3 separate regions of the Homo sapiens genome follow, and all the other regions are linked to region 1. The links come from fine-mapping of genetic effects on gene expression. A gene starts in region 1. Each other region holds a variant in brackets. All regions are shown on one strand. Distances are from middle to middle.

Evidence for each region. PIP is the estimated chance that this variant, and not a neighbour inherited with it, causes the effect.
Region 2: its variant is the best candidate, but not a certain one, in a credible set for the expression of DNPEP in whole blood (TOPMed, PIP 0.74).
Region 3: its variant is the best candidate, but not a certain one, in a credible set for the expression of DNPEP in whole blood (Lepik 2017, PIP 0.78).

The regions. Positions count from the first base shown.
Region 1 is chr2:219,383,138-219,394,246 of GRCh38, reverse strand. It overlaps DNPEP (aspartyl aminopeptidase), which reads left to right and starts at 6,335. Exons shown (of 15, transcript NM_012100.4): 1 at 6,335-6,488; 2 at 7,084-7,177; 3 at 7,267-7,355; 4 at 7,469-7,582; 5 at 7,836-7,961; 6 at 8,149-8,279; 7 at 8,541-8,616; 8 at 8,716-8,823; 9 at 9,804-9,881; 10 at 11,033-11,109. The coding sequence starts at 6,453. DNPEP-AS1 (DNPEP antisense RNA 1) reads right to left here and starts at 5,677. Exons shown (of 4, transcript NR_183823.1): 1 at 5,451-5,677; 2 at 5,199-5,360. RefSeq lists silencers at 5,534-5,683, 5,764-6,283, 6,304-6,543 and an enhancer at 6,808-7,654.
Region 2 is chr2:219,419,048-219,425,082 of GRCh38, reverse strand. DES (desmin) reads right to left here. Exons shown (of 9, transcript NM_001927.4): 2 at 4,928-4,988; 3 at 4,737-4,832; 4 at 4,427-4,588; 5 at 4,130-4,255; 6 at 3,523-3,743; 7 at 1,263-1,306. Among named protein-coding and RNA genes, the nearest start is that of DES, 3.7 kb to the right of the region's middle. The variant CATGTGTGT/T (reference allele first, on the strand shown) is at 2,763.
Region 3 is chr2:219,405,220-219,416,328 of GRCh38, reverse strand. No RefSeq gene overlaps it. Among named protein-coding and RNA genes, the nearest start is that of DES, 7.6 kb to the left of the region's middle. RefSeq lists an enhancer at 7,423-7,923. The variant C/T (reference allele first, on the strand shown) is at 5,992.

The sequences.
Region 1 (11,109 bases):
GTGGAGGTTGCTTTTGACCTTGACAAGAAAAGTTGCGGTGGAATGACAGCGGTAAAACCTCATTCTAGAGGATTTACAAGAGAATGGGAGGAGAGGAATCGGGAAAACATAAGACTAGATAGTTCTTTTTAAAAGAGATTTACATAAAGAGGAGAAGGAAAATGAGGCCACTGCTGGAGGGAGACTGGGGGTTAAGGGAGGATTATTTTTTCTTGGGAGAAATTATAGCACATGTATATGCTAATCAGCTTGACCCGCCAGAACTGTGGAGATTGATAATGCAGGAGAAAGGGAAGAAGAGTTGATATGGTGCCCTTACGTAAGCAAGAGGGGTGGAATCTTGTGCACAAGTGGAGAGGGTGGCCTTGGATAGGAGCACAGATGGTTCACCCACAGAAATGAGGACAGCAGAATATGGAGCTCAGATCCTGGTAGGAGCCTAGGCGTGGCAGCTTAAAACTTGCGGAAATTCTCTTTTGAAGGCTTCTATTTTCACAGTAAAATGGGAACCATGGTCCTCGGCTGAGAGTGGGGATGGAGGAAGACACTGGATGAAACTCTCCTCCAGGAAAGCAAAGAAGCAAATGGCCCAGGAGATGCAATAGGACCTCTGGGCAGTACAAAGAACACACTTAGGTTAGTGGTTGAGTTTAAAGCAAGCTTGTCCAGCTGGGTGTGGTGGCTCACACCTGTAATCCCAGCACTTTGGGAGGCCAAGGCAGATGGATCACTTGAGGTCAGGAGGTCGAGACCAGCCTGGCCAACATGGTGAAACCCTGTCTCTACTAAAAATACAGAAATTAGCCAGGCATGGTGGCTCATGCTTGTAATCACAGCTACTTGAGAGGCTGAGGCAGAAGAATCGCTTGAACCCAGGAGGCAGAGGTTGTGGTGAACTGAGATCATGCCACTGCACTCCAGCCTGGGCAACAGAGCAAGACTCTGTCTCAAAAAAACTAAAAAAAAAAGTAAGCTTGTCCAACCCACCACCTATGGACCACATGCAGCCCAGGACAGCTTTGAATGCAGCCCAACACATATTTGTAAACTTTCTTAAAACATTATGAGATTTTTTTGAAAGGTTTTTAGCTCATCAGTTATTGTTAGGGTTCGTGTATTTTATTTGTGGCCCAAGACTATTCTACTTCTTCCAATGTGGCCCAGGGAAGCCAAAAGACCGGACACCACTGGTTTAAAGTGAGACCAGGCAGCGCGGCTTGGATGTTTCTCCAGCCACACAGGTTGGAGCAGGGGAGGAGCTGGTTGCAGTCAGGGTTGGGGTTTTGCCAGGCAAGTCCGCAAATCTAGAGCAGGAACTTGAAGGTGTGTGCGAGGGAGTGAGCACAACAGTGGAATGTATGGCTCATCCTAGGTAGGAGAGTCATGAAGACAGGAGTGAGGAATAGGGAAAGGTAGGATCAATAGTTTGTAGTTCTAGGCTGGACGCGGTGGTTCACACGTGTAATCCCAGCACTTTGGGAGGCCAAGGTGGGTGGATCACCTGAGGTCAGGAGTTCAAGACCAGCCTGGCCAACATGGTGAAACCCTGTCTCTACTAAAAATACAAAAAATGAGCCAGGCATGGTGATGCGTGCTTGTAATCCCAGCTACTCAGGAGGCTGAGGCAGGAGAATCTCTGGAACCCAGGAAATGAAGGTTGCAGTAAGCCAAAATAGCGCCACTGCACTCCAGCCTGGACAACAGAGTGAGACTCCATCTCAAAAAAAAAAATTTAACTGGGTGTGGTAGAGGGCACCTATAATCCCAGCTACATGGGAGGCTGAGGCAGGAGAATCACTTGAACCCAGGAGGCGGAGATTGCAGTGAGCTGAGATGGTTGCCACTGCCCTCTAGCTTGGGCAACAGAGCGAGACTCCGTCTCAATAAAAAAAAAAAAAAAAGACATATGTATCTTATAAACTCACACTGAAGTGTATGTAACTGACTTCTATGTTCACGCAAAAGTATTTGCACTTTAATATGTGTTAAACCAAAAAGATGAATGAATAATGGTAGCATTGTAAACATCAGCCGAGATCTTCCAGGGAAGATTTTCTCAGAAGGCCAAGGGCAAGAACGATTCTCAGAAACTTTTTCTTTCTTGATCCCTAGTCATCCCTTGACTTTGCCACCTGAACTCCAAATCCATCACCATTCCCTTACCCAGAGGTGACCATTATCCTTCCAAACCTGTTTCTATCCATTTACATATGTATTTATATAACATCTAGAAATATAAATTTAGCTCATTGTGTGAGTTTTATCTAAAGGCCCTCACCTTACATTCTAGAAATTGCTTTTTTTTTTCACTCAACAGTATATTTGGAATTCTTTTCTGTAACAATTCCTAAAGACTGACCTTTTTTTTTTTTTTATGAACTGCTACACAGCACTTTAAAATACTGTGTCTCAAGCATTCAAATCATCTAGGAATCTTGTTAACATGCAGATGCTGATTCTATAACTCTAGGGTAAGCCCTGAGGTTCTGCATTTCTAAAAAGCTCCCAGATGTTATTGACATTGCTGGTCAACAGATCACACATTTAGTAGCAAAGATGTACAGTACGGGTGGAATAGTGTGCTGGGGCCAACTTGGACAAGCTCATGAGAACTGATTGTCAAATTTCCAGGAATTTGGTGAGCTTGTTGTTAAACACAGCAATCATTAAAAAAAACTAAATTATATACACTTACAATTAAATAAATTATATTACAGATAATGAAAACCAAAAATCCATCACCTTTCCAAACATTTTACTGCCTTCTTAAATCTATGCTGTTGATGTTATTTCTATCCATTGTGTCTGCATGGTGGAAATCTACATAATGGCATGCTTCCGCACAGCTCTTCCCAACTCCCTTCAGTGACATCATCTCGACAGCTTGAAATCGGCCACGGGGAACATTTACACCACAGAAATTTGGGTATAAAGGTCTGTGCAAACATACCCCCAAAGTTCAGGGAAGCTGAAAAGCCGACGAAAGAGGCTGACATATACAGTCTCTCAGAAAGAAACATTTCATAGGGACTTATGAATAGAGGCCATAGTTTCAGAGATGAAATGGTGGATTACCCTGCAAACCCAGGGCTTACATACCATAGGGAAACAATGTGTCAAACAATTGAAGTTGACCCCTCAGGCAAAGTCATGAATGCTATGTGAATCTGTCTAAGCGCAGGATTTATGGTAATAGTAGGTAAAGTAGAAAACTTAGAGTCATTCCTGGAACAGGTTGTTGAAAAGTCAACATGGCAGATTAGCTTCCCAGATGGAGTTGCTTTAGCCTCCAGAAAATGCTTGCATTACCCCAAGCCTTCTCCAACACTTGATATTACCCATCTTTTCCATTTTTGTTAATCTGCTCAATAAAAAGAAAAAGTATCTCATTTTTATTATTTATTAATTTTTTTTTTGAGTTGGAGTCTCGCACTTGTTGCCTGGGCTGGAGTGCAATGGCACGATCTCGGCTCACTGCAACCTCTGCCTCCCGGGTTCAAGCAGTTCTCCTGCCTCAGTCTCCTGAGTAGCTGGGATTACAAGTGCACACCACCATGTCCAGCTAATTTTTTGTATTTTTAGCCAGGCTAGTCTCAAACTCCTGACCTCGTGATCCACCCGCCTTTGCCTCCCAAAGTGCTGGGATTACAGGCATGAGCCACCACGCCCAACTGTTATCTCATTTTTAACTTGCATTTTCCTGTTTAAAGTGAGATTAGGTGTCTCATATGTTCATGACTAGAAATTTAACAATATTTCTTGCTCTTGTAAATATAGCCCTTTTACTTTTTTCTTTTTTACCCAAACCAAAAATGGTCAATAAGAACCTTTTTACTTTTATATTTTCTAGGTGATTATTGTACAAGAAAGTCAGTGTTTTTTAAATTAGGCTACCCTTCCTACCAGTTCTAATAATAGCTTGATCGTTTATTTTCTTGGGGATTCTAGATAATCATATAATCTATAAATAATGACCAATTTTACTTTTGCACATATAGAATTGTTAATTTTGTTTTGTGGTACTGGCTCTGACTACAGCTCCACATTGTCTAGCAGCAGTAATAGCTCATCAATGTCTCACTTCTGATTTGAATAGGAACACTTCTGTATTTCCCTCCCAAAATGCTGGGATGACAGGCGTGAGCCACCACTCCCGGCTCACTTTCTAAGTTATGCATTTTGGTGATGTTTGAATCTCTTACTCAAGCATGTACTCTTTTCTGTGATCAGAAAGAACATTAAAGGTGGTTCCTTATTCAGGTTGTCTCCTTCCCTTATACATTGTAGCCTTGTTTCGGCCCTTTCACTGTCCTCCTTGAATGTGTCCCCTCCCCAGGAGGTAGAGGACAAGAATGCTCTCTCCATGTCCTGCTCAGCATTGAGCTTTATACATAATTTTATTTATTTATTTATTGAGACAGAATCTCACTCTGTCGCCCAGGCTGGAGTGCAGTGGCACGATCTCAGCTCACTGCAACCTCCACCTCCCGGGTTCAAGCGATTCTCTTGCCTCAGCCTCCCAAGTAGCTGCTGGGATTACAGGCACGTGCCACTACACCCGGCTAATTTTTGTATTTTTTGTAGAGACGGGGTTTCACCATGTTGGTCAGACTGGTCACGAACTCCTGACCTCAAGTGATCTACCCGCCTCGGCCTCCCAAAGTGCTGGGATTACAGGCGTGAGCCACTGCGCCAGGCCCATAATGGTATTTCAACAAACGGTTAGGGAATGCCATGAATTTAAGCCAGCACCTAGTGGGTGAATTCTTGAAAACTCCCCTGCCATATCTACTAGTTTGAAGTGAGGGCTGCAGGACCTTTCCAGCCTCTCCCCATCCCACCCTGTCACTCCCCACCCCAGGTATATAAACGGCAGGTTGCTCCATAAACCTGTGATCTCTGGAATTTTGTTTGAACCCCTGGTAGCTGGGCCCTGTTTTGGATCTAGAGGCCACCAAGAGTCCTGATCAGTTCCTGCAGCTAGGAAGGTGCATGGGGTTTAAACGTGCTACTCACTACTCCTGACATGGGAATACTGGAACTGCCAATAATGTGGAATTTGTTTTTCTGTTGTTTTTAACAAATGGAAAGGGCACAGATATCAGAGTCAAATCCCAGATCCACCCAAACAGCTATGTGATCTTGGGCAAGTCAACTTCTGTGTCCCTTGTGGACCTCCCGTGTAACATAACACTTACCAAAGCGCATAGAAAAAGGTCCAGAAAAGATCTGAGAGAAGGCTGTAGGGTTGTTCCAGGCCTCTGCAATCAAACTGATGGAGTTCAAACCCCACCTGTGCCGTTTATTACCTCGACGGATCACTAGTCTCCGTATCTCAGCTTTCTCTGTTCATGCATAAACTGGGGACAGTAAGAGTACATAGTTGATGGGGCAGTTGTGAAGATTAAACGAGGTAACAGGCCAATCTTTATCATAAAGCTAAAGCTCACCGTGAGCGCCCCATGGACATTAGCCTTATTGCTTTTATTGTCACAAAGGTGGCTGTGGCGAGAGACAGCACTTTGTACCGTACCCGTCGGACCCGGTGAGCTGGAGGGGCGAGCTTTTTATTGGCCTCGAGGCCCGGGGCACGGGGAGGCGGGCCGTCCGCGGCTGTCCTAGCACCTCCGCGGCAGCAGAGGGCCCTGGCGGCGGCTGCGGGTCGCGCGGCGTGGGTGACGGGGGTGCAGGGCGGGGCCTAACGAGCAGCCCCCGCAGGGGCGGAGACGAGGGCGGGCCGGAGGCGGAGGCGCGGCCTGGAGAGGGATGGGGCGGAAGCGGGGCGGGCGGTGCAGCCTAGCGAGGGGCGGGGCGGACGAGGAAGCGTGACGAGCGGCGGGGCGGGTGGAGCAGCCTGGCGAGGAGCGGGGCGGGGTGGGCGGCACGGCCTGACAAGGGGCGGGGAGCGCAAGGAGGCCTGACGAAGGGCGGGGCGGAGCAAGGGCGGGGGCAGGGCGAGTAGTGGGGTACAGCGAGGGCCGGAGCGGATGGGGGAAACCTGGTGAGGGGCGGGACAAAGCGGGGAGGGCGGTGCAGCCTGGCGAGAGGCGGGGCGGACGAGGAAGCTTGACGAGGGGCGGGGCGGGCGGTGCAGCCCTGCGAGGGGCAGGGCGGGCGGTGCTTCCTGGCGAGGGGCGGGGCGGGGCGGGCGGTGCGGCCAAGCTAGGGGCGGGGCAAGGGCGGGGCAAGGCGGGTGGTGGTGCCCAGCGAGGGGCGGAGCGGACAGGGTAAGCCCGCCGAGGGGCGGGGCTGACCGAGGTGGGCGGGGCGGATGCCGAGGGGCGGGGAGAGGTGGGCGGGGAGGCCAAACATGGGGCGGGGCGGCGCGGCCGGGGAAGCGTGATGAAGGCCTACGAGTGCGGCGCGGCCTGAAGGGGCACGCGGGGGACCTGCAAAGCTAGTGAGGGGCGGGGCAGGCGGCGCGGTGGGGGCGGGCCGAGCCCGGAGGCCAGATGAGCGGACACAGCCCCACGCGCGGGGCCATGCAGGTAAGTGGCTCCCGACGGCCCCACTTGAATTTCGATCCCAGACCGGGTCCGGCGCCCTCCGGGGCCCAAGCTTAGCGCGGTGCTGCAGTGGGGCCGCCTGACCCAAAGCGAAACCGAAAGCCCCGCGGAGGGTGACCTGACGACTTTCCCGGGACTGGAAGGGGGAGTCCTGCGAGAGACTAGGTGGGTGCGAGAGAGGAGTCAGGGTGCTCCTTGGGGTACAGGGCTTTGGCTCCGGGCTGGGTACGCGCACGTGATGCAGGCCGCCTCAGAGTATGGGGCCCGCTTGGGATCCCGGAGTTTGGGAGCAGAACAGGATTTCCTAGCTGGGCAGGGACATGGGGGCGGGACTTAGGGAGTCGGGCTAAAGTTCGGATTAAGGGGCGGGCCTGGCTCATGATCCTGGGCCGGCGGGCTGAAGCTTTCAACGGAGTTTCAGCCCTGGGTTTGGGTCTCTCGGTGGGGACGGGCGGAAGCAGAGGTCTGTGCCTTAGAGTGGTCACTTCTGGGGGTGGGGATGGGAGAATCCTCGGAACCTGGGTGAAAGGTCAGGGGTCCCAGACCTTGTAAAAGTCTGAGCATCCCCCTCCCCTAGGTGGCCATGAACGGTAAGGCCCGCAAAGAGGCGGTGCAGACTGCGGCTAAGGAACTCCTCAAGTTCGTGAACCGGAGTCCCTCTCCTTTCCATGGTAAGCGGTGGCCAGGGCAAGGGAGGAGGGTGGAGGCTGATGCGCCCTTCACCAGCTTCCATCGCTGTGAGAGGGTGCTTTTCCCACAGCTGTGGCTGAATGCCGCAACCGCCTTCTCCAGGCTGGCTTCAGTGAACTCAAGGAGACTGAGAAATGGAATATTAAGCCCGAGAGCAAGGTACTGGGGGTGGGGTGGGGGTGGAAAGGCAGGTCCCTAGGCTGGTCTCCAAGCCCTGTGTGCCAGCTGAGTAATGCAACTCACACCCCTGTCTTTCCTCCCCTTCTCCTCAGTACTTCATGACCAGGAACTCCTCCACCATCATAGCTTTTGCTGTAGGGGGCCAGTACGTTCCTGGCAATGGCTTCAGCCTCATCGGGGCCCACACGGACAGCCCCTGCCTCCGGGTAAGGAACTCGGACGGTGTTGGGGTGGGAGGAGATGTCAGAGGGAGTACAGGGCAAAAGAGAACTAGGAGGTACAAACTGGGGCCTCTATCCCCTGGAGTAAGGGAGAAGGTAAACTTGTTGGCCCCTTCCTTCACACCTTGAGCCTTTCATGTGACACTAATATTCGCTGTCTGTTACTTATGAGTAGCCAAAGTCTCATCTCCACATATCGTCATGAAGCCTTCTCTGACTTCTCCATCTTTACACTCAGGTGAAACGTCGGTCTCGCCGCAGCCAGGTGGGCTTCCAGCAAGTCGGTGTGGAGACCTATGGTGGTGGGATCTGGAGCACCTGGTTTGACCGTGACCTGACTCTGGCTGGACGCGTCATTGTCAAGGTGGGAACCGAGGTTGGGGATGGCGGAGCCTCCTCAGAAGACTGACTGCCACACTCCTCAGGGTACCCGTGGGGAAGAGGGGTGGGGGCAGTCTGGTCAGAGGACCACCCTGCTTAGTCTGAGTGAAGTAAAGACTGACCACTGGGGTAGGAGGCACCCTGGGCTGACCTGGCCTGGCTGGCTGCAGTGCCCTACCTCAGGTCGGCTGGAGCAGCAGCTGGTGCACGTGGAGCGGCCCATTCTTCGCATCCCACACCTGGCCATCCATCTGCAGCGAAATATCAACGAGAACTTTGGGCCCAACACAGAGATGCATCTGTGAGACTGGGGCAGGGCTGCGGTGGCTGGGAGGGATGGAGAATGGTACCAGGTGATTATTACCTAATGGTAGCCATTAGGTCACATTTTACTCTTGGGACCCAGTTAATTTCTAAGGGTCCTCACAGCCTTGTGATTTGGGGAGTGGGCTGGGAATTGAAGGGCAGAGGCAGTTGCCCATCAGGAGGCACCTGAACTTATGGATGCCGCACTCAGCTGTGCCCTCCTCGCAATCCCCCCACAACCCACGTCTCCCCACAGAGTCCCCATTCTTGCCACAGCCATCCAGGAGGAGCTGGAGAAGGGGACTCCTGAGCCAGGGCCTCTCAATGCTGTGGTAAGAGAGTCTCCTGATCATGGGGAGGGCGGCAGAGTCCCCTGAGAAGTGGGGAGGAGAGGAGGAATGGACTCTTCCCAGCATCTTTCTGCTCTTCAGGATGAGCGGCACCATTCGGTCCTCATGTCCCTGCTCTGTGCCCATCTGGGGCTGAGCCCCAAGGACATAGTGGAGATGGAGCTCTGCCTTGCAGACACCCAGCCTGCGGTGAGGACTGGCTGTAGGAACCTGTGGGTGAAGGGCCTCCAGGATCCTGGCCACCCCTAGCCCGTCCTGCTGAAGCACCCATCACCTCCACCAAGCCCTCAGTAACTCTCATCCCCGTTTTTCCCAGTAGACACATCCCCCACTGCTTCTAGGGCGGTGGTTCTCAAAAAGACAAGTTCCCTACCCCAGACCTGCCCACTAGGACTATCTGGGAATTGGCCCTTTTTACAGATTCCCAAAGAGTTTCTTCTACAGGTGGGCCCTGTCTGCTTTGACCCACACTGACACTGAACTGCTTAGGGAAAGAGGCCTGGATGTGGCCATCTGTTCTCTGTCTCCCGGTTGCTGATGGTCAGAGATTGCTAAATCTTTGGATGCTGTGTCCTGCTTGAACACGTACTAAGTTTCTGTTTTTTGGCTGGTTTCCTCTGTTTACTTCTTTGGCCTTTTTGATGACAATTCAGCCCTTCCTTTTCTTGACCCACAGGAAGAGGTCAAGAGCTATTGGCCTCCACCCTTTTGTTCCTCAGCACCAACCCAGCCCCCTTCTCCAATCTCTGCTTGGTCCTGCCTAGCAAGGAATCCCAGCACTTTGGGAGGCTGAGGCGGGGGGAATCACATGAGGTCAGGAGTTCGAGACTAGCCTGACCACCATGGTGAAACCCTGTCTCTAATAAAAATACAAAAATTAGCTGGGCCTGGTGGTGCATGCCTGTAATCCCAGCTACTCAGGAGGCTGAGGCACGAGAATCCTTTGAACCCGGGAGGCGGAAGTTGCAGTGAGCCGAGATCGAGCCATTGCACTTCAGACTGGGCGACAAGAGCGAACCTTCATCTCAAAAAAAAGAAAAAACAAAATAGTGCCCTAAGCCAGGGGTCAGGGAGAGGTTGCGCAAGAAACCAAGGAGACCCTTGGGAGCAAAAGAAAGGTGAGTGGGGGTGGAGGGTTGAAGGTCGGGCTGACTGTCTTACCTCTCTAGGTCTTGGGTGGTGCCTATGATGAGTTCATCTTTGCTCCTCGGCTGGACAATCTGCACAGCTGCTTCTGTGCCCTGCAGGTGAGGAGCCGGGGCGCCCCAGGCAGCACATAACCACCAGCAGAGGTGGTATGTTTGGGGTCGGGGGAGCTGCCTAAAGCCCCAGCAGGTTGTGAGAGAGGGCCATTGTCTACCCGCTCAGTCTGCTGGTGCTGGATGGACCAGGAGGGGGCCCTAAATGTTGCAGCCTCAGCATCGCCACCTTTGGTCTCTGCCCTTGCACTATCAGGGTGTTGAGGCAAGAAGAAGGAGGAGAAGTTGTTTCAGGCACCATGGTCTCTTGTCCTAGCCTTGCTCCTGCTGCTTTTCCTGAAGTTAACAACCTCTGCCTCAGGGAAAGGCTTTATCATCCACAAGGCAGTATCATCCACCTCCTTCTGCTTCCTACGCCACTCCCCAGGCTTAAGACCCCAGCCTTCTCCCTGTTTCTTGGGATCTCAGTCAGGTAGCCTCTCTTCCTAGTCACCTTGATATTCCCCACCTTCTCTCCACCCTAGTCAGTTCCCTTTCTTTCTCTCCTCTTGCCCTTGATCTCCCTCTGCCTTTTTCTGCCTTTCCTTCCCTGTAATCCTGTGGCTGGAGATAGGCTTTGGGCTGTAATTGAGACCAGAGCTGGACCTGGGACCTGCATCTACTTCTGCAGGCAACCAGCCAGTCATGTCACCTTGATGGAGTCTGTCACCTCTTTGAACCTCAGTCTTTTCCCTGAGGCCAATCAGTTTATGTGATGTGTGTAGCCTTTTGGCTTTCCAGGACTCTCAGCTCTTCCTCTCTGTCCTCCACATCTTCTACTGCCTTTTGCATGGGAAGGTAGAGAACAACACCCAAAGGATGGTGTCTCCTGTCCCAGTTGAAAAGGTTTCTACCTAGCTATTGATCTGGCCAAAAAAAAAAAGAAAGAAAGAAAAAAAGAGAAAAAAAAGGTCCTCACCACACCTTAAAGGTTTCTACCTATGTAGCTATTTATTTGGCAAGAAAAAAAAGGTCCCCACCACACCCTCTGCCAGGCAGTGCCCTAATTGATAAAAGTCATGGCCATGGAAGGCAGACAGGGGAATGTGCACACCCAAGGTGCTGGTGGATGGGGGAGCGTGCACACCCAAGGTGCTGGTGGGCTGAGTTCCAGCAGAAGCAGGTTGGAGATGATGCTCTCATTTCCTTCCCTGAACCAGGCCTTGATAGATTCCTGTGCAGGCCCTGGCTCCCTGGCCACAGAGCCTCACGTGCGCATGGTCACACTCTATGACAA
Region 2 (6,035 bases), 33 kb before region 1:
TACTAAAAATACAAAAATTAGGGGGGCGTGGTGGCACATGCCTGTAATCCCAGCTACTCAGGAGGCTGAGGCAGGAGAATTGCTTGAACCTGGGAGGCGGAGGTTGCGGTGAGCCGAGATTGCACCACTGCACTCCAGCCTGGGCGACAGAGCGAGACTCCGTTTCAAAAGAAAAAAAAAATTCAGATGAGCAACTTGATGTCTTAAAGTGAGACAGAGCAGGAATAAGGCACTGACTCATTGTGCTGATGCTCAGTCACTTGCCATTCTGTGCCTCAGTTTCCTCACTGAGGACACGGAGTGAAGTGGTACCAACCTTATCATGGCCACAAAGCTATTGATTTGGAAAAGCACTGTGCAATGTGGGTGGAGTTTTTTGTACTATGAAGTTTTAAATGCAAGACTCATACTTGGTGTCTGTATAAACAACTAACTGAAAAGAGAGGCTCTGAGTTGTGTAGGAAAGGTCAAATGGAGGTCCTTGGTATTATGAGTTTGGTGCTTACGAATTTCCTTAGCTAGCAACCAGCCTGTGATGAATGTTGTGACTCGCTGGAGCGCAGCGTGTTTTTTTTCCTGATGGAAATGTACATCGAAGATAGAAAAGGTTTGATCTAGGAAAGGAGAAGCTGCCAAGGACTCCGACTTGCTTTCCTAATGCATCATTATCGTGTGTTTCTCTGCTCTCTGGGGTTGGAAAGCCACCCGATCTGCGTATTACTAATGTCAAAATGGCAGAGTGCCCTAAGAGCTCGTTCTTTTCATTGTTTGGCTTTGCTAAGATTTGGCATTTTTTTCCAAACGTGCATCCAACATCTTGCTCCAGCAAACTGGAGGTGTTCGACAAGCAGCCAAGGTGGGGCTTGGCAATGTGCCAAACAGACAATGGGCTGTGGGTGTCTTAGAGGGCAGGTGGTATGAGATGCTCCTGAAGCCAGGTCCCCAAGGACACTCCTGCTTTCAGAGTTTGGGATTCAGAACAGAGGCTGCTTCCTGAGGCCCAATACTCCAAGAAGGTGCAGGGGACATGGTAAATACAATACAATATAATCACATAAAAAGCTCTCTCTGTCATAAGTTGCCTCATCCACCTCTACCTAAACTCCCCCACCTACCCGCAGTGGTCCCCTTTTTCTTCCCCAGACTCCAGGTCTGTCCCTAGCCCCAGGGTCCCATCCTCCCTCCTGGCTGGCCTTGGGCAGTGCCCATGCTGGACTCCTGGCCCCTGCAACTCCAGCCTCCGCCTGCCAGCAGACACTCACCTCGGAAGTTGAGGGCAGAGTAGGTCTGGATGGGGAGATTGATCCTAAAAGGGAAGAGACAAAACCTCCTAAGAGTTAAGAACCCTCCCATCGGCCGGGCCCAGCTGTAATCCCAGCACTTTGAAAGGCCGAGGCGGGCGGATCACCAGGTCAGGAGATCGAGACCATCCTGGCTAACACAGTGAAACCCCGTCTCTACTAAAAATACAAAAAATTAGCCGGGCATGGTGGCGGGCACCTGTAGTTCCAGATACTCAGGAGGGTGAGGCAGGAGAATGGTGCGAACCCAGGAGGTGGAGCTTGCAGTGAGCGGAGATTGCACCACTGCACTCCAGCCTGGGGGACAGAACAAGACCCTGTCTCAAAAAAAAAAAAAAAAGAACCCTCCCATCTTTCCCTGAGACCGCCCATCAAGGCTCACCCTGGTCCTTTCTAAACACCATCCTCAGCTGTCCCAGTCCCACGGACCCCAGCACTCCCACCACCCATACTGCTCAAGGAATGGGGTCGAAGGCCAGCTAGAGCTGTCCCAGGAATAGTCTCTTCTGGAAGGATCATTATTTCAACTGTGAACTGCTGGCACGACACTAGGATGTGCAACCCCACCGCGCCCTCCAGAGCACCAGGATTTCCTTCTTGCTCCTGGCACTGAAGTTGGTACTAGTAGCAGCTGTGGGTGATATCCATTGCTCATGCCCACCCTCCAGCCAGGCCAGTTCTGAGAGCTTACTATTTAGGCCTAATGCTGGGAAAATGCAACATGCCTTTAGCTACCTTCAAAGGCCATCATATGTAGACGTGATTTTACAAAATCTGAAGTTTCTCTTTATGTTTGTACCTGTATCTAAACATGTCTGCTCCTTTTTAAAAATTTCAGATATTATTTTTATGAGTATCAAGGGGTACCAGTTTTTGGAGTAACTGATCTGTTTTAAATTGAGGTTAAATTTACATACAGTGAAATGCACAGATCTTTAATGTACAATTCAATGAGTTTTGATCAATGTCCACGTCTGTGTAACTACCAGTCCAAATCAAGATATAGAACATTTCTAGGCCAGGCACAGTGGCTCATGCCTATAATCCCAGCACTTTGGGAGGCTGAGGCAGGCGAATTACTTGAGGTCAGGAGTTAGAGTCCAGCCTGACCAACATGGTGAAACCTCATCTCTACTAAAAATACAAAAAATCAGCTGAGTGTGTTGGCACACGCCTGTAATCCCAGCTACTAGGGAGGCTGAGACAGGAGAACCGCTTGAGCCTGGGAGGCAGAGGTTGCAGTGAGCTGAGATCACACCACTGCACTCCAGCCTGGGTGACAGAGCAAGACTCTGTCTCAAAAAAAAAAAAAAAAAAAGATATAGAACATTTCTGTTATCCCACAAGGTTCCCTGGTGTCCCTTTCCAGTTGTATGTTGTTTTCTGTGTCTAGAGGTGGGTTGCTCTGAGCATGACGTCTGTGTCTTTTCCTCCGAACATGTGCATATGCTGACATGTGTG[CATGTGTGT/T]GCAAACTCATGCCTTCTGTATGCATCTCTTTACCTTCTCTTAGCCTATCCCTGTGCAAGGCTTCTCTCCCTCCCTCTCTCTATTTGCCTCTATCTGCTCCCTCCGTTTCCCTCCTCATCACTCCCCATTCTGCTTTCATCTCTCCCTTGACTGGCAGTAATATTTTATTATTGGTTGCTGAATATGGTTTTTTTTGCTGCTGGTTCTTAATTCTGAAGGTGGATAAGGGAATACTTATATTTCTCTTTTTATAAATGCTGTTAATTAAATTGCTTTTTACCCAGGTGGCCTTGGTTAATTCTCTGCAATTAATAGAGCAGTGGCCTCTTGTATAAAATTGTTTCCACGCCGGGTGCGGTGGCTCACGCCTGTAATCCCAGTACTTTGGGAGGCTGAGGTAGGCAGATCACCTGAGGTCAGGAGTTCGAGACCAGCTGCCCAACATAGTGAAACCCCGTCTCTACTAAAAATACAAAAATTAGCCAGGCGTGGTGGTAGGCGCCTGTAATCCCAGCTGCTCGGGAAGCTGAGGCAGGAGAATTGCTTGAACCCAGGAGGCGGAGGTTGCAGTGAGCCAAGATGGTGCCATTGCACTCCAGACTGGGCGACAAGAGCGAAACTCCATCTCAAAAAAAAAAAAAATTGTTTCCAGGTCTTGTTGAGGTAATCAGTAATCTCGAGCCTCCTGGGGACAGAAATGGACCACCCAGCACCCCGCACCTCCCACTCGGGCTCCTGCCTGGCCCCTCACCGGCTCTCCTCTCCCTCCAGCAGCTTCCGGTAGGTGGCAATCTCCACATCCAGGGCCATCTTCACGTTGAGCAGGTCCTGGTACTCGCGCAGATGGCGGGCCATCTCATCCTTGAGGTGCCGGATTTCCTCCTCCAGGCGCGCAATGTTGTCCTGGTAGCCACTGGCCTCACTGGCAAATCGGTCCTCCAATTCCCGCATCTGCCTCATCAGGGAATCGTTCTGCAGGAGAGGGGGAACCCAGGTCAAGGAAGGGAAGAGGACACTAGCAGCCCAAAGAAAGCTTTGGGGCTGGCAGGCAACTCCAGATGGTCAGGTCCAGGCCATGTTGAACCCTGAACTCAAATTAAGTCTATATGTGAACACTCAGAATAAAATAGATACAAAGGAACATTGCATTCAGCCTCACAGTCCCCACATAGGTAGATGCCCAGGAACCCCTGATTCCTTAGCATCCAACTGGAATCCACTTGTCTGGTTTTACCCCTATTGTAGATTTAAGTAGATGAAGGCCCAGAGAGGATCTATGATGGGCCCAAGGTCACAAAGTGAGGGTGTGAACTGCAGACAGGAAGGGGCAGGGCCTGGCCAGGTGGGCAGGGACTCACAGTGCCCTTCAGGGCGTCAATCTCGCAGGTGTAGGACTGGATCTGGTGTCGGTATTCCATCATCTCCTGCTTGGCCTGGCGCAGGGCGTCGTTGTTCTTGTTGGCTGCCTGGGTCAGGTCTGACACCTAAGGGCAGAGAAAGGGGCCCAAAAATGAGAAGGATGCAGGGCACGGGTAGGGATGAGCAAGGGAGCATGAAGCCTCTGGGCTCTCCTCCCATGGATGGTACCACAGGCAGCACATCCAAGCTGGGATTCAGGGGGACGGAGATGCCAGTCCCCGGGCGAGGCCACCCACCTTCGACTTGTACCACTCCTCAGCTTCAGAAATGTTCTTAGCCGCGATGGTCTCATACTGAGCCCGGATGTCCCTGAGGGCGGCAGTGAGGTCTGGCTTAGACATGTCCATCTCCACCTGGACCTGCTGTTCCTGAAGCTGAGCCTGCAACTCACGGATCTCCTGTAGGGCATGACTGGGCTTCAGTCCCCTCTCAGGGCCCACACAGCACCCTCACACCCCTATTCCCAGCCAGAGCCTCACCCCAACCCCACTTTCCGGCTGCTTTCCCCATGGCCCAGTGACCCCAGGAAGAGGGGCCAAGGTATACCTCTTCATGCACTTTCTTAAGGAACGCGATCTCCTCGTTGAGAGATTCAATTCTGCGCTCCAGGTCAATGCGAGCTAGAGTAGCTGCATCCACGTCCTGGGAGAGGCCAAGCGAGAAGGACATGGTCACCGCCACCCAGGTGGGGCAGAGCAAGGCCAGAGGCCATGCAAGGGGAAAAGAAGGGCACTCACCGCTCGGAAGGCAGCCAAATTGTTCTCTGCTTCTTCCTTCAACTGAATCTCCTCCTGCAGCCTGGGTGGGACAGACAGAAAGACAGACAGTTGCGGGTGATAAAGCTGGCAGTGGAAACGACTGGCCGGGGGCTGACCAGGGGGTGGGTCCAGGACAGAGCGGGAGGGCCTGGCTGCTGGGTAGAGGCAGGAGAGACAGGGAGTGGAGAGGCCCCACCCACCCAGGGAGGGCACAGGAAGTGGCCCAATCTCTGCCCAGGAGCCACACCCTTGAAGTCTATGTCCCCACCAGACTGTGTGACCTCCCTGGGGTTAGAAACTGTGTCTATTTTATCCACCTCTGTGTTTCTGGTTCCCAGCTCCAGCCTGGCCAATATAGCTGCTCAATTAATATTTATGACTTTGGTGGCAGGAGGGTGACTGTGCTCACTTGGCCTGTCAGAAGTGGGACCAACAAATATGCTACACTTGCTGCCCTTTTCGTTCTTGGAGCCTGGTGAAGTCTACAGTCAGGTCCTCCCAAGCTCTCTGAGAGCTGTGACCCCCACCTACTCCCTTTTTCTCCAGCCTGTCCATTCACCTTGTAAAAAGACACAGTCTCGGCAAGGCCCCAGGGCCAAGCTCCCCCCTCCCCCCACCTCCCCCAGGGCCTCATCACAGCTGAGCTGAGAGCTGTTGCTTGGACTCTGGGCCCTTGCCCTGCTTTCCCTGTCTCCTATCAGCCTCCCTTCTCCCTCTGGCTACACTGCCCTCTGGGCCTCCTGCAGCCCTTCCTCTGCCCATCAACTACCTGACCCCATAAATATCGCCCCAGCATCTTAAAATGCTTTTTAACGGGGCTGTCCACAGGGCACCGGGTCCCCTAAATTCTCCCATATCCACCCCCTGATCTATGTCCCCAAGAAAACTCCTGTGCAAGATGGGATCGCAGGGGGAGAGACCTGGAGGTCACGGCCCCTTGAAACACACAGGTGGAGGACCCTTTCTCCACATGGGGCAGGAGAGGGTCCCGGGCCCCGGGAGAAGGCAGGTGCTGACAGCGGGACCCCAGACCCCAGGCCTAGCCTCCTGTGCCCTGCCCGCAGAAAGAGGAGTCTGGGGTGCCGGG
Region 3 (11,109 bases), 22 kb before region 1:
GACTTCAGTGACTGGGTCAAGGAATGGGCCTGGGAATGAGCAGGGCCAATCAGAGACCTTCCCTGGAATTTATAGACGGAACTGGGATTCTTCAACTGGAACCTGTGGAAGCCATGTTTCCTGCCCCCTGGGGGAGTAGGAAGAAAGAGAGGTCAATATGTAAGAAGCAGAGGAGGCTGGAGAGGAGGAGCAGGCCAGCCCCTTGGTTCCTGCAGTGCTTCCCTCAACTTTGTGAGTTGAGCTCCCACACTGTCCTTCCTGGCCTTGGGCCAACAAACTTTCCGTTTTTTTTTTTTTTTTTTTTTTTAATTTAAGGCACTTGGTATTGCTTTGATCACTTACAGCCCAAAGAACCAGATTAATCTTCCTGAAGGGGACTCTACACCTATTTCTATGATGCTACTGGGACAACATTTCTGGAGCTCTTCTCTGTGAATGATCTCCAGACCACATAAGGAAATTGGCCTTTGGACCAGCCCAAGTCCTCAGTTCCTTGGTGAAAAGAGGCAGAAGACAAATAAATCATGCCATCTATTCTCTAGTCAAAATCAACAACCACCAGACTTGGCCCCGAACCACTTGGGACTGTTTTCAAAATTCAGTTCCACCCCTGAGGATTTGCTACCATGGAGGGCTGCAAATCAACACCCCGAGGCTTGGAAGGCAGGTGAAAGAGGAGCACTCCAAAACATGCTGTGAGCTGGGCAGCACCGCTGGAGGGAGAGTTCAGCCTCCCGAGAGGACCACTCAGGATGGGACACACTAAAAATACCGACAATTTATTTGGATGGGTAGTGTATATGGTACAAAATTCAAGATGTGCAAAAAGGCATAAAATGAAAAGTAAGTCTCCTTCCCACTTTGACACCCAGCCACCCCAAACACTGCTTCAGAGACAACCAGGTTTTGGTTGTTATCGGTTCCTTTCAGAGATACTTCATGTACACACAACCACATTTTCTTATGTGGAGCCCCCACTTCTGAATCAATCTTTTTTCAATGACATACAGCTTAGAGATGGTTCCATTTTAGTACATTGACAGCTGAGTCACTTTTACATTGTGATAAAATATACATAAAATAAAATTCACCATTTGAGCCATTTTTTAAGTATACAGTTCAGTGGCGTCAAGTACATTCACATTGTTGTACAACTATCCCCACCATCCATCTGCAGAACTTTTTCATTGTCCCAAGCTGAAACTCCATATGTATTAAAAATAACCCTCCACCTTCCCCTCCTCCCAGCCCCTGGTAAACATCATTCTACTTTCCGTTTCTACGAATTTGACTCTAGGTACTTCATGCAAGTGGAATCATACCATATTTGTCCTTTTGTGACTGGCTTACTTCCCTTAGCATAACGTCTTCAAGGTTCATCCATGTTGTGACATGGGTCAGAATTTCCTTTCTTTTTAAGGCTAAATAATATTCCATTGTATGTATACACCACACTTTGTTTATCTGTTGATGAATATTTGGGTTGTTTCCAACTTTTGGTTATTGTGAATAATGTCGCTATGAACTTTGGTGTACAAATATCTGTTCAAATACTTATGTTCAGTTCTTTTCTGTAGATACTCAGAAGTGGAACTGCTATGTTATATGGTAATGCTATGTCTAAATTTTTGAGGAACTGCCATGCTGTTTTCCGCAGCAGCTGCACTGTTTTACATTGCTACCAGCAGTGAACATGGGTTCCAATTTCTCCACATCCTGGCTAACACTTGCTATTTTCTATTTGTTTATTTGTTTTATAATATTAATAGTAGCCTTCCTAATGGATGTGAGGTGGTACCTCATTGTGGTTTGTTTGTTTTGTTTTGTTTTTTAGAGACAGGGCCTCTGTCACGCAGGCTGGAGTGCAATGGCACGATCATCACTCACTGCAGCCTCAAATTCCTGGACTGAAGTGATCCTCCTGCCTCAGCCTCCCAAGTACCTAGGACTACAGGTGCAAGCCACCATACCTGGCTAGTTTTTTTACTTTTCCATAGAGATGAGGTCTCCAAACCTATGTTGCCCAGGCTGGTCTCAAATTCCTGGGGTCAAGTGATGTTTCCACCTCAGCCTCTCACAGTGCTGGGATTATAGTTGTAAGCCTCCACACCCAGCCTTATTTCATTTTTTAAAGATAGGGTCTCACTCTGTTGCCCAGGCTGGAGTGCAATGGCATGATCATACCTCACTGAGGACTTAAACTCCTGGTCTCAAGCGATCTTCCTGCCTCAGTCTCCTAAAGTGCTGGGATTATGGAAGCAAGCCACCACACCTGGCTGCTCATTGTGGTTTTGATTTGCGTTTCCCTAATGATCAGTGATGTTGAGCATCTTTTCATGCGCTTACTGGTAATCTGTATATCTTCTTTGGCAAAATGTCTTCAAATCCTTTGCCCATTTTTGAATTGGGTTGTTTGGGGATTTTTTGTTGTTGAGTTGCAGGAGTTCTTTATATACTCTGGATATTAATCCCTTATCAGATATATGATTTGCAAATATTTTCTCCCATTCTGTGGTTTGCCTTTTCACTCTGTTGATAATGTCCTTTGATGAACAAAAGTTTGTAATTGTGATCAAGTCCTATTTATCTATTTTTTATTTTATTGCCTATGCTTTTGGTGTCATATTCAATAAATCATCGCCAAATCCAATGTCATGAAGATTTTCCTCTTTGTTTTCTTCTAAGAATTTTATATTTTAGCTCTTATGTTTAGGTATCATGTCTGTTTGTTGTTGTTGTTGTTGTTGAAACAGGGTCTTGCTCTGTTACCCAGGCTGGATTACAGTGGTGCCATCATAGCTCACTGCAACCTCAAACTCCTGGGATCAAGCGATCCTTCCACCTCGGTCTCCCAAAGTGCCAAAATTACAGGCATGAGCCAATGTGGGCCTGGCTGTTTTATCCATTTTGAGTTAATTTCTATGTATGGTATAAGGTAAGAGTCCAGCTTTGTTTTTTTGCATGTGGATATCCAGTTTCTCAGCACCATTTGTTGAAAAGACTACCCTTTCCCCCACTGAATGGTCTGGGCACCTGGGATGAAAATAATTTAACCACGTGTGAGGGTTTATTTCTGGGCTCTCTATTATATTCTGTTGGTCTGTATGTCTGTCTTTATGCTGGTACCACACACTGTTTTGATAACTGTACCTTTGTAGTAAATTTTGAGCTCAGAAAATGTGAGTTCTCCATCTTTGTTCTTTTTCAAAAATTTGTGGCTATTTGAGGTCTCTTGAAATTCCTTATGAATTTTAGGATGGATTTTTCTATTTCTGCAAAAATGTTGGTGAGATTTTGATAGGCATTATACTGAATCTATAGATCACTTTGAGTAGTAATGGTATTCTTAACAATATTAAGTGTTCCAGTTCATGAACATGAGATGTCTTTCCATTTATTTTTGTCTTCTTTGATTTATTTCAATAATATTTTATAATTTTCAGTGTACAAGTCTTGTGCCTCATTATTTATGTTTATTGCTAAGTATTTTATTATTTTTAATGCTATTATAAATGCAGTTGTTTTCATTTATCATTGAGATGATCATGTGGGGTTTTTCTTCATTCTGTCAATGTGAAGTATGACACTGATTGACTTTTATATATTGAACTATCCTTGCATTCCAGGAATAAATCCCACCTGATTATAGTGTGTAATCCTTTAAATTTGCTGCTGAATTTGGTTTGCTAGTATTTTGTTATGAGTTTTACATCAATATTTATAAGGGATATTGGTCTGTAGTTTTCCTGTAGTGTCTTTGTTTGGCTTTGGTATGAGGATAATGTTGGCCTCATAGAATGAGCTAGAAAGTGGCTGGGCACAGTAGCTCATGCCTGTAAACCCAGCACTTTGGGAGGCCGAGGGAGGCAGATCAGGAGGTCAAGAGTTCGAGACCAGCCTGACCAACATAGTGAAACCCCATCTCTACTAAAAATACAAAAATTAGCTGGGTGTAGTGGCACACGCCTGTAATCCCAGCTACTTGGGAGACTGGGGCAGGAGAATCACTTGAACCCGGGAGGCGGAGGTTGCAGTGAGCTGAGATCGTACCACTGCATTCCAGCCTGGGCGACAGGGCGAGACTCTGTCTCAAAAAAAAAAAAAAAAGAATGAGCTAGAAAGTATTCCTTTCTCTTCTAATTTTTGGAAGAGTTTGAGGACTGGTGTTAGGTTTTTTGTTTGTTTGTTTGTTTGTTTTGAGACAGTGTCTCACTCTGTCACCCAGGCTGAAGTGCAGTGGTGTGATCATGGCTTACTGTAGTCTCAACCTCCGGGGCTCAAGTAACCCTCTCACCCTCCCACCTCAGCCTCCCTAGTAGCTGGGACCAGAGGCGTGTGCCACCATACCTGGCAAACTTTGTAATTTTTTTGTAGACAGGGAGTCTCCCTATGTTGCCCCAGGCTGATCTCAAACTCTTGGGCTCAAGTGATCCTCCCACCTTGGCTTTTCAAACTGTTGGGATTACAGGTGTGAGCCACCATGCCCAGCCTGGTGTTAGTTCTTTGTTTCTTAGAACTCACCAGTTAAGCCATCTGGTCCTGCACTTTTCTTTGTTGTGGGGTTTTGAGTCATTTTTCTTAGTGTCTTTGTATTTCACTGTATAGACTTGGTATAATTTATTTGGCCAGTTCCTTATTGATAGACATTTATGTTGTTCCAGTGTTTTGCTATTATAAGCAATGCTGCTGTGAACATCTTCAGGACACCTTTGAACACAAATTTTGGTACTTTTTTTTTTTGAGACGGGTTTTGCTCTTGTTGCCCAGTCTGGAGTGTAATGTGCGATCTCGGCTTACCACAACCTCTGCCTCCCAGGTTCAAGCGATTCTCCTGCCTCAGCCTCCTGAGTAGCTGGGAATACAGGCATGCGCCATCACGCCCGGCTAATTTTGTATTTTTAGTAGAGATGGGGTTTCTCCATGTTGGTCAGGCTGGTCTTGAACTCCCGACCTCAGGTGATCCACCTGCCTCAGCCTCCCAAAGTGCTGGGATTGTAGGCGTGAGCCACCATGCCCGGCCACTTTTTTAAAAAAAAAACATAAAAGTCACAGTATTTAGTAGTCAGGCCTCTTCCTTAATTGATATTGGAAATGGAAAGGTCCACCAGGACAGATGATTTCATTCAGCATTTACCAGAAAAGGGGACAATTTATAAATTTGTGTATGTGGGATGGTGCCTTGCACAGTGGGTACTGACAATAACTTTTGTTAAATGAATTAAGGAAATAAGTTAGTCCTGCTCTCCGTTTGAAATATTTCCAGATTAAGCCGGGCGTGGTGGCTCACGCCTGTAATCCCAGCACTTTGGGAGGCCGAGGCAGGCGGATCACGAGGTCAGGAGCTCAAGACCATCCTGGCTAACACAGTGAATCCCCGTGTCTACTAAAAATAAAAAAATTAGCCAGACATGGTGGTGGGCACCTGTAGTCCCAGCTACTCGCGAGGCTGAGACAGGAGAATGGCATGAACCCGCGAGGCTGAGCTTGCAGTGAGCCGAGATTGCGCCACTGCACTCCAGTCTGGGTGACAGAGCGAGACTCCGTCTCAAAAAAAAAAACCAAAAAACAAAAAAGAAATATTTCCAGATTATTCAAACCTCAGAGTTTTAGAAGCTTACAGTTGGACCTCAGCAGGTCATGAGGCTGACCAGTCTCATGCTCCCACTTCTCACTGAAGTCCGAAGTCTTCTTTACTGTGGCTCCAGCAAGCACTTGATCAGCTTGAATCCCTCCAGTCCCTGGGAACTTACTGTCTCTGGGCAGCACATTCCATTCCCGAAGAGTCCCTGAGTACCTAACATGTCTGCACCGCAGCTCTGCTGTTAGAAAACCTTTCCTTGGCCGGGTGCGGTGGCTCACACCTGTAAACCTGACACTTTGGGAGGCCGAGGAGGGCGGATCACCTGAAGTCAGGAGTTTGAGACCAGCCTGGCCAACATGGCAAAACCCCGTCTCTACTAAAAATACAAAAATTAGCCAGGTGTAGTGGCA[C/T]GGGCCTGTAATCCCAGCTACTTGAGAAGCTGAGGCAGGAGAATCACTTGAACCTGGCGGGTGGAGGTTGCAGAGAGCCGAGATCACACCACTTCACTCCATCCTGGGCTAAACAGCAAAACTCTGTGTCAAAATTAAAAAAAAAAAAGAAAAGAAAAGAAAAGAAAGAAAACGTTTCCTGATACTCAAAGCCAGATGACATGTCTCTGCTATGCCACATATTCTAACCTGGGAGCCAAGCAGAGCAAGAACCCCCCTTTCACAGATCTACCCTGCAAACATTTGGGGGCAGTGTTCATGCCTTTTGGAACGTTGCCTGTTTTGCCACTCCCAGCTTCTCTCCTTTCCCTGACCTATTGAACCAGCAAGACCCAAACTTGTCATGGCCTCTGAGGGCCCCACAGGACTGGCCCTGCCCACCTCGTCAACTGCAGGTCACTCACCTCTCCTTCAGACTCCCCTTGCTTCAGCCTCCTTTCTGTTGGGTGAGGCTGCCCAGCTCTCTCCAGCCTCCAGACCTTGGCCTTTGCTGTTCCCTGCTGTCCCCCGAGCGCAATGTCTGGAGGGCTTCAGGATGCCCCGGCAGATCTCTGAACCTCACAGAGGGCTCTCTGGAAAATAAGGGCCCTGGCTCTACCTAGGAGCCCCCAGATTTCATGAATGGCATGGATGGAGGACAGGTGGCTAGTATGGGCGGATAGCTGAGGTGGCTTGGCCAGCATAGGGCATTTGGATTAGGAAAAACTGAAAGAACTCAAAAAGGAGAGAACTGGCCCTTTACCCGGTCTGAGAGAGCCTCACTTGCCCTGGGATTCCAGGTATGAGGCAGTGTTAATTCCTCCTGCGGTGCACCCTCCCTCCGTGGACTAATACCCACCCACAGGGGCACCTTCCACTCCTTCCAGGGCCCCTCTTCTCTCTCTTTTTTTCCAGCTGGGGACCTCATGCTTCCACCCTGAGCTGGGTTGGGCCAGGAGGCAGCCATTGCATGAGAGAGCCTTGGGAACAGCATGGCAAGGATGAACTCTGGGGACCTAGGCCCTCATCATCAACTGTAGCACTGGGTCATTGACAGGGGGGTGAGAAGGTGGTGGCAAAAGGCACAAGCTTAGGGGTTGGGGGTAGAGTGGTCAATTGGAGGCGAAGATACAGGTGGACACCCTGGGGATTCACCAGCTGACCACCTGGGCTACCTGGGCAAGTCCCTGGCCTCGGCCCTGTTGTGATCCCAGTGTGAGGGGACAAGGCCAAGTCACCTCTGGAGTCCCCTCAACTTCTGACAGCCTGAGACTCTGGGCCCCAGCAGGGGGTGGTCTCAGCTGAGTTTTTTCCTGGGACTCACTGTCTAATGTCCCCTGGCCTCCCTGTCCAGAGCCCCTCCCTCCAGCAGCCCCCTCCCATGCATCCCCATCCCCTCCATCCACCTTCCCCCAGCTGGAGCAGCTGCTTGACCTCCACAGGCTGCTGAGGAGCTGGAGTGACTGTAAAAGGGAAGGAATGTCCAGAGGCGGCTGTTTCTCCCTGATATCACCCGGGGGGAGGCTGGAGAGTTGGGGGCCCAGCCGGGATGGCGTCAGGATTCTCCCTGAAACTCATCCCTCTCCTGCTGCGCTGCCTCCTCCCCAGGCTCAGCCAGCAATCCACCCCCCTCCCATCGGCCACGCTCCACATCTCTTTGGCTTAAGACATTCGGGCCATATCTTCCCTCTCCTAACTTTTTCCACCTCCAGCCCCCAGACCCTCTCCTGGGCCCCTTCCTTCACTGGCACCCCCACCCCAATTCTCATCAACCCCTCCTTCATCGTCCTCGTCACCCCCACACCCCGACCTTGCTCCTTCTCCAAGGAGGGCCCCACAGCCCCGACTCCTGCCCCTCCTGCCCCACGCTCCTTTTACAGACACAGAGTGCTGTGGACTTTCTGCCAAAGTAGGACAAGTCTGGGGCTAATCTCACCTCCTCCCCAGCCCCCAACTTCTCCCACCAAATAGGACAGCTCAGCCCAGGAAGGAGGCTAGGAGGAGAAGGAGGCTGGGCCTCAAGGGGGAAGAGCTCATGAGATGATGGAGATGAAAGGGCTTTGTGGACTCTCAGTACCCTGTAAACTTCAGGTGTTATTCACCCAGTAAGAGATGACAGGGAGGAGAGGATGGGACGGAAGGGTGGACGGAAGGGAAGGGGGCTTTGGTAGCATTAAGAAAGGTCCCAGGACAGCACAGTGGCTCATGCCTGTAATCCCAGCACTTTGGGAGGTTGAGGCAGAAACATTGCTTGAGCCCAAGAGTTCAAGATCAGCTTGGGCAACAAAGTGAGACCTTGTCTCTACAAATTTTTTTAAAACAATTAACCAGGTATGGTGCTGCATACCTGGAGTCCACTGCACAAGGGAGGCTGAGGCAGGAGGATTGCCTGAGCCCAGAAGGTCAAGGCTGCAGCGAGCTATGACTGAGCCACTGCTCTCCAGCCTGAGTGACAGAGAAAGATCCTGTCTCTAAAAGAAAAAAAAGAAAACACCTCAGGGAAGGCTTCCGGATGCATTGGGAGCACATGGCTGAACTGGGGACCTGTCCTGGACCAGCTCTGAGACAAGCTGTGTGACATTGGACTGGTCACCTCCCCGTTCTGGGTCTGGGTTTATCCTTGCTTAAAGTGAAATATCCTTGGACATACCTCCCTACTCTGACCCCAAAGAGAGGGGTGAAAGAGGTCTGTTTTCTTTTTTTTTTTTTCCCTTTTTTTCCTGAGACAAAGTTTCACTCTTGTTGCCCAGGCTGGAGTTCAATGTTGCAATCTCCGCTCACTGCAACCTCCACCTCCCAGGTTCAAGCGATTCTCTTGCCTCAGCCTCCCAAGTAGCTGGGATTACAGGTGCCCCCTCACCACACCCGGCTAATTTTTATATTTTAGTGGAGACAGGGTTTCACCATGTTGGCCAGGCTGGTCTGGAACTCCTGACCTCAAGTGATCTACCTGCCTCGGCCTCCCAAAGTGCTGGGATTACAGGCGTGAGCCACTGCACCTGGGCCCCTTCTTTCTTTTTTATATTTCAACCTAGATGAAGAAAAGGGGTTGCACCCCTTCCTTGGAATTCTCTGTTGGGATCTCAGTGCCATCACTCCATTCTCTCTTCTTCCTGATTCATCCCCATTCCTTTCATCTTGCCTCATAGGCTTTTTTGGTTCAGCCTCTCCAGTTTGGTCAGATCCCTGCCCTCCTGGGCCCCTTCCAGGTTTCCTACATCCCTCTGAGGCTGTGAGGCTTTAAACAGGGCCTGAGCAGGCTGGCAATGACCTCACAGGGCCACTATGCACAGCTTCTATTTATAGCCTTATAGGCTCATCCTCCTCTTCCTCCAACCAGCTGAGTCACGGTCAGCTTGGGGTCCACTCAGACCCCAGGGCCTTCTCTGCCACTCCAGATCCCAGTCCACCACGGCACCCTGAACTGTTCTTGCCGCTGTGCTGGATGCTTTATTCTCTGAACCATCCAAGTACACAATGAAGATGAGTGTTGGGTTCTACACAACACCCTTTTTTGGGCCCTCAGCATTGTATGTTCTTATAGCCCAGCCCATCATCCTTCTGTCTTCTCACGTCTGCCAGATAGGCAGCCCATGACCTCAATTCCACTGGACTCTGCAGAGGTGTGGGCAAGGGGAGGAATTTGAGAAGCATCTGATAGGCCATGGCCAGAGTTCAGATCCTGGATCTCCCACTCTTGGGTTAGTTTCCTCACCTCTCTGAGCCTGTTTCCTCACCTGTGAAATGGTAATTACAGCATAGGGTTGTTGGGAAGATTAAACGAGAAACTTGTCTGCAAAGCACTTAGCACAGTGCCCAGCACACTTCGAGTGCTCAGTAAGTGCCAGCCATCATGAGTATTTTTTGTATCCCCTTTTGACCAATAAGGAAACTGGTTCAGTGGGAGCCAAGGACTTGCTCAAGTCCTTGCTTCAGGTCAGCAGGTCAAGGCCAAGATTGAGAGCCAGGACTGCCTGACTCCAAAGCACTAGCTCTTCCTATGGGCTATGGTGCCTCTGAGAATAACACAGCCACCACTCACTGAGCATCTACTGTATACCAGGCACAGTATTATGGATAGCTACCACATGGAATCACTGTATCTCTAATCCTTACAACACTGAAGTAACTCTTATCCCCATTTTACAGCGGTGGATACTAGCCTCAGAGAGGTTAGGTAAGTTTCCTAAGGTTGCACAGCAAGTAAAAAGCAAAGCCTGGATTAACCCTAGTCAGTGTCTCCTAGAAGTCCTGCTTATTTCTCTGTGTGGTCTCCAAGGCCTTACCACATATTGATTTGGCAGACACAGCCCTCGGCTCATCCCCTTTTAACTCGGCCCCATCGGGGACTCTCCATGGAAAAAGCCCCTTGTCCAGCATTGGACAAGTCCCTCCTAACATTCTGCTCTGCTCCTCTTCCCAAAACCCTTGCCCTCCAGAAACGGTCTAGGCATGGAGGGGGAGGCTGTCAGGGAGTCAGGCCCCACTGACAGAGGAGTCCGAACTTTAGCCTACAGGAAAGGCGGGTGGGGAGGACACTGGAAATTTTTCATCTGAAGGATAAAGAATCCAGTGGGGGCCCTTCTGCCCCATGCCACTCACAGGCCAGCCAGGCACGGGGCTCCTCACAGGCTGCAGAGGCTCCCCTCAGTCCACCCTGGCCCCAGACTGCCCCCAACCGGCCTGGGAGCAGCCTCGCGTAGCAGCATCCACACCTCTGTCCTGGAGAGGCTGCCAGGAGGACTGAGACCAAAGTCCAGGCTTGATCTGTGGCCTCAAGTTTCCAAAAAGATTCCGGGGTCCACTGCCAGCCCCTGGGGATTCCCACTGCCCAAGCTCGTGAGTGCCAGATGCTCCCAGAGCGCATCAGGAGTGTCCCAGATACATTTCCCTTCCCAACTAAAGATCCCCAGAGTTACAATTTGCTGAAAGCAGAGTGCTGGCCTTCTTTCTTCCCACCCACAGCAGTCAGAACGGTATACCCCAACCATCCCAAAGGGCCCTCCTAATGCCCCCACCTCATCCGGCCTCAAAGAGATGGGGCAGGTGCTCCCTCTGCCCTCTCCCAGGTGCCCCAGCCACCCTGGATACCAGAATAGA